2 linked regions of the Homo sapiens genome follow. The protein of the gene in region 2 purifies or fractionates together with the protein of the main gene of each other region. This does not show direct contact. Each region holds a gene or a part of one and is shown on either strand. Other genes may lie near its edges. The genes, in order: EHMT1 and JARID2.

Region 1 (3,815 bases), on a different chromosome or scaffold from region 2:
CAAAGGATCAGAAGTCAGACTGCACCAGACTCAAACCTGGCACTTGAGAAACAGGGGATCCAACACCGGGATCAGGGAAGGGGCGTCACAGGGGGACAAACAGCGTCGTGTGTCTGAACCCAGAGACAAGCGGGCAGCGTTCAGATGGTTCAGAATAAATTAGCAGGTGGCAGAGTCAACTCAACCAACAGAAACACAAGCCAGTGATTAACGACAGACACAACATACCCTGTAGACGACGTGGTTCAGCTTGAAAATGCTCACACGATCTGATCTAAACAAAATGGGAGCCAGTCAACGGGGCTGGGGGAGGGGCGTCCGTGCCTCTGCGAGTGCTTGGCTCCCCCAGAGGGACGTCATGAGTGTGAAGAACCAAAACCAAAACCAAAGAAAGCAAATCAAGAAACAGCCAAATGGCGGCATGCTCTTCTCAAAGGCCGTGGTAAATGCCGGAAGAAACAGCGGGAAGCACTGATCCACCTGCAGGACTCGGGGGCAGAAAAGCTGACTCTGTGCCCGATTCACAGCACTACGGAACTCTTACACTGGAAGAACCGCGAACGTGGTATGATTTTACTTTGGTAAAAATAAAAGAGAGCAGGTGAAGAGCCCTAGGAGGGCGCCGTGCCGCCGCACCTGAACCAGCATGTGGCAGATGTCCACGTGTCCAGCCTCTGCCGCGGCGTGCAGTGGAGAGCGCTTATTCTGGTGCTCCATTTTGAAGTTGGGGTCAATTCCGTCCACTGTGAACAAACACAGTTTTATTAATGATTTCAGATGTAGCCACAGACTCCAGCTCAGGACTGTCACGATGGCTGGCAAGCACTCACAAATGACCATCCTCCACATAAACAGCCACCTCGAGCCACGCCGGAACCCGCCCACAGCACCATCCTCTGGACTTGAGACTTGAGTGTGCTAGTCTCCTGCGGAATTGAACAGGCAGGTCCCTCTGTCAGAACTAACTCGGCAAGGCACGCTCTTCCCTTTACCACCCTGCTCTAACTCTGAGGTTCCTTCTGTGTTTCTGTGTGGCCTGGCCATGGCCGCCCCAGGCCCAGTGAGGCGGCTGACCAGGGCAGACACACCCTAGGGGAGCAAGCAAGGCCGGGGACAGAGGCCTGAGCATCGGTCAATTCCCAGGAGGTCTGAGAGGACGGTGAGCAACGGAGCAGTGAGGTGACCTTCACAGGTGTCCTGTGAAGTCCATGACAAAATGATTAAAACTGCTGGTCAACATAAATAAACCTTTCTTTAAAAGCAAATAGTTTCACTTCTTTTTACTTGACGTACTGTCCAGTAAAGGGCTTCTTAATCATCCTTTTCAACCCAGAGACGATGAACGTCAGAGAAATCAAGCCTAAAGCTATGAGCTCAGAGACCAAATTATCACTGGGAAGGCTCTCTAACAAGTATGCTTTTGCGTATTAGAAATCTAATGCAATCGGTTTGCCTGTTATAAAATACCTATAGCTGAAGCCTACTTTGTCCACACCACAGCTGCTGCGATCAGCACAGGTGAAACATCGACTGCCGTCATCACCACACATTCCAGCGTCATGACCACACATCTCAGCATCATCACCGCATATCCCAGCGTCATCACCACACATCTCAGCATCATCACCACACATCCCAGCGTCATCACCACACATCCCAGCGTCATCACCACACGTCTCAGCGTCATCACCACACGTCTCAGCGTCATCACCACACATCTCAGTGATGCCGTCATCACCACACATCTCAGCGTCATCACCACACGTCCCAGCGTCGTCACCACACGTCCCAGCGTCGTCACCACACGTCCCAGCGTCGTCACCACACGTCTCAGCGTCGTCACCACACGTCCCAGCGTCATCACCACACGTCTCAGCGTCATCACCACACGTCTCAGTGATGCCGTCATCACCACACATCTCAGCGTCATCACCACACATCCCAGCGTCATCACCACACATCCCGGCGTCATCACCACACGTCTCGGCGTCATCACCACACGTCTCGGCGTCATCACCACACATCCCGGCGTCATCACCACACATCCCAGCGTCATCACCACACGTCTCAGCGTCATCACCACACATCTCAGTGATGCCGTCATCACCACACATCTCAGCGTCATCACCACACATCCCAGCGTCATCACCACACATCCCGGCGTCATCACCACACGTCTCGGCGTCATCACCACACGTCTCGGCGTCATCACCACACATCTCAGTGAGATGCCGTCATCACCACACATCTCAGCGTCATCACCACACATCCCAGCGTCATCACCACACATCCCAGTGTCATCACCACACATACCGGCGTCATCACCACACGTCTCGGCGTCATCACCACACGTCTCGGCGTCATCACCACACATCTCAGTGAGATGCCGTCATCACCACACATCTCAGCGTCATCACCACACATCCCAGCGTCATCACCACACATCCCAGCGTCATCACCACACATCTCAGTGATGCCATCACCACACATCTCAGCGTCATCACCACACATCCCAGCGTCATCACCACACGTCTCAGCGTCATCACCACACGTCTCAGCGTCATCACCACACATCTCAGTGATGCCGTCATCACCACACATCTCAGCGTCATCACCACACATCCCAGCGTCATCACCACACATCCCAGCGTCATCACACGTCTCAGCGTCATCACCACACGTCTCAGCGTCATCACCACACATCTCAGTGATGCCGTCATCACCACACATCTCAGCGTCATCACCACACATCCCAGCATCATCACCACACATCCCAGCGTCATCACCACACATCCCAGCGTCATCACATCTCAGCGTCATCACCACACATCTCAGCGTCATCACCACACATCTCAGTGATGCCGTCATCACCACACATCTCAGCGTCATCACCACACATCTCAGCGTCATCACCACACATCCCAGCGTCATCACATCTCAGCATCATCACCATACATCTCAGCGTCATCACCACACATCTCAGCGTCATCACCACACATCTCAGGGCCACAACTCACTAGTTTTGCTTTTCCTTAATCTCTATTTCTGCTTGATTTAATAATCACATACCAATTCCTTTTTAAAAATTAGAACTTCGTAGAGAATAGTTCTAATATCTTGCGTAACTGGATATGAACACCATAAAAAGCCTCAACACCAGTGGGCAACCTATTCTCACTCATCAGAGAACTCGGAGACACAGAAACAGAAAACCAAAACGAGACCAGCCTCCTGAGGAAGGAGTAACAACTGCTCTCGGCTTCTTTCAGTGCCACAGGGCCGGCTGCATGTGCCCGGGCCGCAGGAAGGCACTTACCCAGCATGAGGAGCACCTTCTGAAGCTCCCCTTGCCTGGCGGAGAAGTACAGCTGCTTTGGGTGGAAGCGAAGCTTCTTGGGTCTGTGGGAAGCACAAGACAACAGTCAGCATGGGGCTCTGCATCCCACACATGAAGCTGAAGGCTGGAAGGCCCGGCGGACATCTCCCCACCAGCCCCTCAAGCTCATGGGGCTCCGCGTCCCACACATGAAGCTGAAGGCTGGAAGGCCCGGCAGACGTCTGCCCACCAGCCCCACAAGCTCAAGTGCAAACCCACCAGTCGAGATATCTCATGGTAAAAACTGCGGACAAGAAACTGCGTTCCCAGTCACCGCAGGAGAACACTACGCACTGTGAGGCTTTTACACAACACGACGACAGAACCAGCGCAGGATGCAGGGGAACCTCATCTACGCTCAGCACAGCCGGGACCAGCCCCAGCCAGGATGAGCCCACACAGCGTGGTCACGAGTGAGGGCACAGCTCGCACTACAGAA
Region 2 (3,815 bases):
TTGGGCTCGAAGCGGGGCAGAGGGTGGAACTTGTGGTGGTCGTTCTCTGTGTGGCCTTCCAGCGGCCCCTTGCGCTTCTCCAGGATCTCCTTCTCCATCAGCACCTCCTTCTCCAGCCGCCGGTGCTCCTCTGGGGACAGGGAGTCGTAGGAGAGTAGGTACTGGCAGTAGGCCTCCTGCAGCTTGGCCAGCCGGTCCTGGGCAGTTCTGGGGATGCGCAGCATGTCTGCTAGTTTGTTCCATTTTTTGAGGTCAGTCACTTGCTGCATGCCGCCCATCTCATTAATCAGCCGGAAAAAGCAGGCCAGGTCGAGCTCACAGCCCCCTGGGACAGCGAAGGGGAAAAAAACGGGACAGTTAGTGAAAGAGACACGAACAAGATGTTCCTCATTCAACCTGTACTTCTTGAACTCCTACTATGAGCCAGGACTCTGACAGGCTCTGGGGTGAGAGTGGTGAACAGCAGACTCCCGGTCCACAGAGAGAAGGGCGTTACAAAATGATGGGTCATGACCACTTGCTACGAAGAGCAGGTGGAACGAGGGACTACCATTTTAGGTGGGGAGCGTCTGAGGAGGCAGCATTTAAGCTGGGGCTTGGCTGGAAAAGGATGCGAGCTGGCCAGACAGACATACAGGGAGGAACATCCCAGTGTACCATGTACTGGTACATGTGTTGTCACATGGAGGCGGGTGTCATGAGAAGACTAGCTCCCTGGTGAGGAGTGGGTAGGGGTCCTGGCTGCACCCACGGCCCAGCGTCACCTAGAATAGCTTTGACACATGCTTGTTACCAACTCCCAATTCCCCTTCTATAATTCCCAATGCCCACCCACTCACTCACTCAACTTCACCCATCCACCCACTCACTCACACAAAGGAAGTCTATTTTCCATCCTGCTGGATTTCCAGAGCAAAGAGCAACACCTGCGTGAGGACACAGGGCAGCACATCTATGCCTCGTCCCTCGCCCATCCAGACAGCGGGCTGCTTCTCAGTGCATAAGCTGGTGCTCAGTGCCCCTCCTGATCAGGCCACAGAGCAGCGCAAATGCACATCAAACCTGGGCAGGTTTTAACGCGCGCCCAGTGGCTTTTCTAGATGGGAATGGAGAAAGCAACCTCCCTCGGGCCAAATAAAGGAAGGGGGGTAGGGGAGATTTTCCAAAATAACCATCAACAAAATACTAAACAAAGTACAAATTAACAACGTTTTAAATCTTTAGAGTGTGGGGATATATTGTTTTTAAGTAATAAAAGGTAAAGTGTGCACGGATCCAGTCCAGGCAGGGTCGCTGCACATACCAAGCATGACAGGACCCACTAGGTGAAGCGTCTGAACCACCTCGGCAGACACAGCACACACAGAGAGCGAGTTCCCAGCACACCAGCAAGACCAGGGATGGGGACACAGCAGCCTGAATTCCACTCACACTAAATGGCAGGACAGTGGACTGATGTGGTTGTGGAGAACAGGGGAGTTGGGGTAACATCCATGAGGGAACTGTCCCCAGCCTCGACAGGAGGGACCTAAGAACTGAGACTCCACAACAAACTCCAGGTCTCACAGACTCCCAGAGTCACAGGTGGGACTCACGGTGGCTCTGGCTGACAATCGGGAGTTCTTCCTCCGAGGGCAGGTGGGTACTGTCTCAACTTACAGAGGTAGGCACCAAAACGAGTCCCCCAACCAAAACAAGTCCTCCACCGTCCGAGTGACTCAGAACACAGGTCACAGAAGGGAGGAAATCCACACTTTCATATTTCACTCTAAGTAGATTATAACGCAAGAGCACCTGAAAATCACACAGCGCTTGCAAGAATTCTTCATGGAATCCTCATCCGCTGCGATCACTCCCACTCAGGGCCTTGAGGCTGCTACGTGGCCGAGCCCCTTCCCCACCCAACTCCCGCCAGCGGCACGGCGGCTCCCTGGGACCTGCGGTGGAAGTGAACCTACACAGAGGCAGAAGGCACATCTGCTGGGGTGGATTTTAGGCTATTACTTCAAAGTTATTAAGTTTCTACCACTGTCAGATGGCTGAGCTCAGACCCCAGCCCTGAGGCCTTGCTGGGTCACAGACAGGTCAGTACCCCTGGGACAGAATGTCAGACGCCTTAGACTTCTGGGTGACGGCAACAAGCATAAGCACACCACAGGGAGGCACAGTATGGCTTTTGTCCCAGGGTAAGGGAGTCGAGGGTAAAGAAAAACCTACTCTAAACAAAAGGCGCTGTCACTACGATGTCAAGTGTGCTCTCGAGGCTCCATCATCCACCTAGCAGAGGAGGGAAACTTGGAATGTTTCCCTCCTGTCTGCAGGTCTCCAAAGGCAGGAGGACTTGGTGCGGTTCCATCACTGACTCAGTCATCCTGTGTCCCAAGTAGTCATGGGGCGTGGTCAGCGGGCGTGGGTGCACGCGTGTGCAGAGCCTGCTCCCTGCACTGCTTCCTATCACGTGCTATTCCCAACAGCAGAGCACAAACCAAGAACTCTTGCAAGTTAAGGTGACTGTCACTCAGGCATCAGTCCTGGCAGGCACCTGCTGAGGGGAACCACGAAACCTCCATCCTGCCTGGAAGCCTATCTTGCTGCCAAATCCCTGACACTTAAATGATGGCTACACGTCTCCATGCCTTTGAAAATTGAGGATCTCCAAAATGGAGGTGTGGCCTGTTTCCTCCCATGGGTCTAGACTGATGGGGTTGCAACCTTACCTGGATGCACCTCACTCCACAGAATCCACTTAGCCTTAACAAGGCAAGTTCATCCTCACCCTGTGTCCCCAGTGGCAGGACTGAAGAGAGGATGACAGGGAAGGAGGGCTACAGGGGAACCCAAGAGGAGGATCTGCCTGCAACCCACCCTGAGGAGCAAGGGTCTGCATGACAGCCCAGATATGCATTCACTAAGGATCCACTGTGACAAGTTTCCAACAGCCCCAGCCAGAGCTCAGAAAAAAGGTCTCAGAAAAAACCTGGTCTCAGAAAAAAGGTCAACAGATCCCTTGACCTGTGGCCTTGACAAAATCGCCAGAGAAACTGAAGCTCAGAGGAAGAAGAGACAAGGCTGAGCAGGATAAAAAATGGCCTACAGGACCCTAGAGGGCTATGGGCTGCATGGTGATCCCTCCAAATTCATATGTTGAAGCCCTGACCTCCAGTACCTCAGGACATGAATGAATTTGGAGACAGGGTCTTCAAAAGGGTAATTATGTTAGAAAGAGGTCAGTAGGATGGGCCCTAATCCAATGTCCTTCTAAGGAGAGGAGATGAAGACACAGACACACATAGAGGTAGGACCCTGTGAGGACACAGGGAGAAAACAGCCATGCACAAGCCAAGGAGGGAGGTCTTGTTGGTTTCGGGAGAAACCAACCCTGCTGGCCCCTAGACCTTGGGCTTCCAGCCTCTATAATCCAGTGTGGAATCCAGAGGGGCAGCGCTCCCCACTGGCCCCCCGGCCCCTGCTTTAACTCCAGCAGTTGTGGGTAGGAGGTGACAGCCCAGGGGAAGCAAGGGGCCCAGACCCAGAGTGGGGGCTCACCCCAGATCCAAGCTCAATACTTTTTTTTTTTTTTTGAGACGGAATCTCACTCTGTCACCCAGGCTGGAGTGCAGTGGTGTGATCTCGGCTCACTGCAAGCTCCGCCTCCTGGGTTCACGCCATTCTCCTGCCTCAGCCTCTCCAAGTAGCTGGGACTACAGGCCCCCGCCACCACGCCCGGCTAATTTTTTTGTATTTTTAGTAGAGACGGGGTTTCACCGTGATCTCGATCTCCTGACCTCATGATCTGCCCGCCTCAGCCTCCCAAA

What was found.
Region 1: the proteins of JARID2 (region 2) and EHMT1 purify together in Homo sapiens (affinity purification with western blotting, with the first as the bait; one study listed by BioGRID). This does not show direct contact.

The regions. Positions count from the first base shown.
Region 1 is NC_000009.12:137,779,219-137,783,033, reverse strand, and holds part of EHMT1 (histone-lysine N-methyltransferase EHMT1), read right to left. Parts: intron 3,400-3,815; coding exon 3,317-3,399; intron 744-3,316; coding exon 637-743; intron 1-636. UniProt on the Homo sapiens protein: Histone methyltransferase that specifically mono- and dimethylates 'Lys-9' of histone H3 (H3K9me1 and H3K9me2, respectively) in euchromatin.
Region 2 is NC_000006.12:15,497,417-15,501,231, reverse strand, and holds part of JARID2 (protein Jumonji), read right to left. Parts: intron 326-3,815; coding exon 1-325.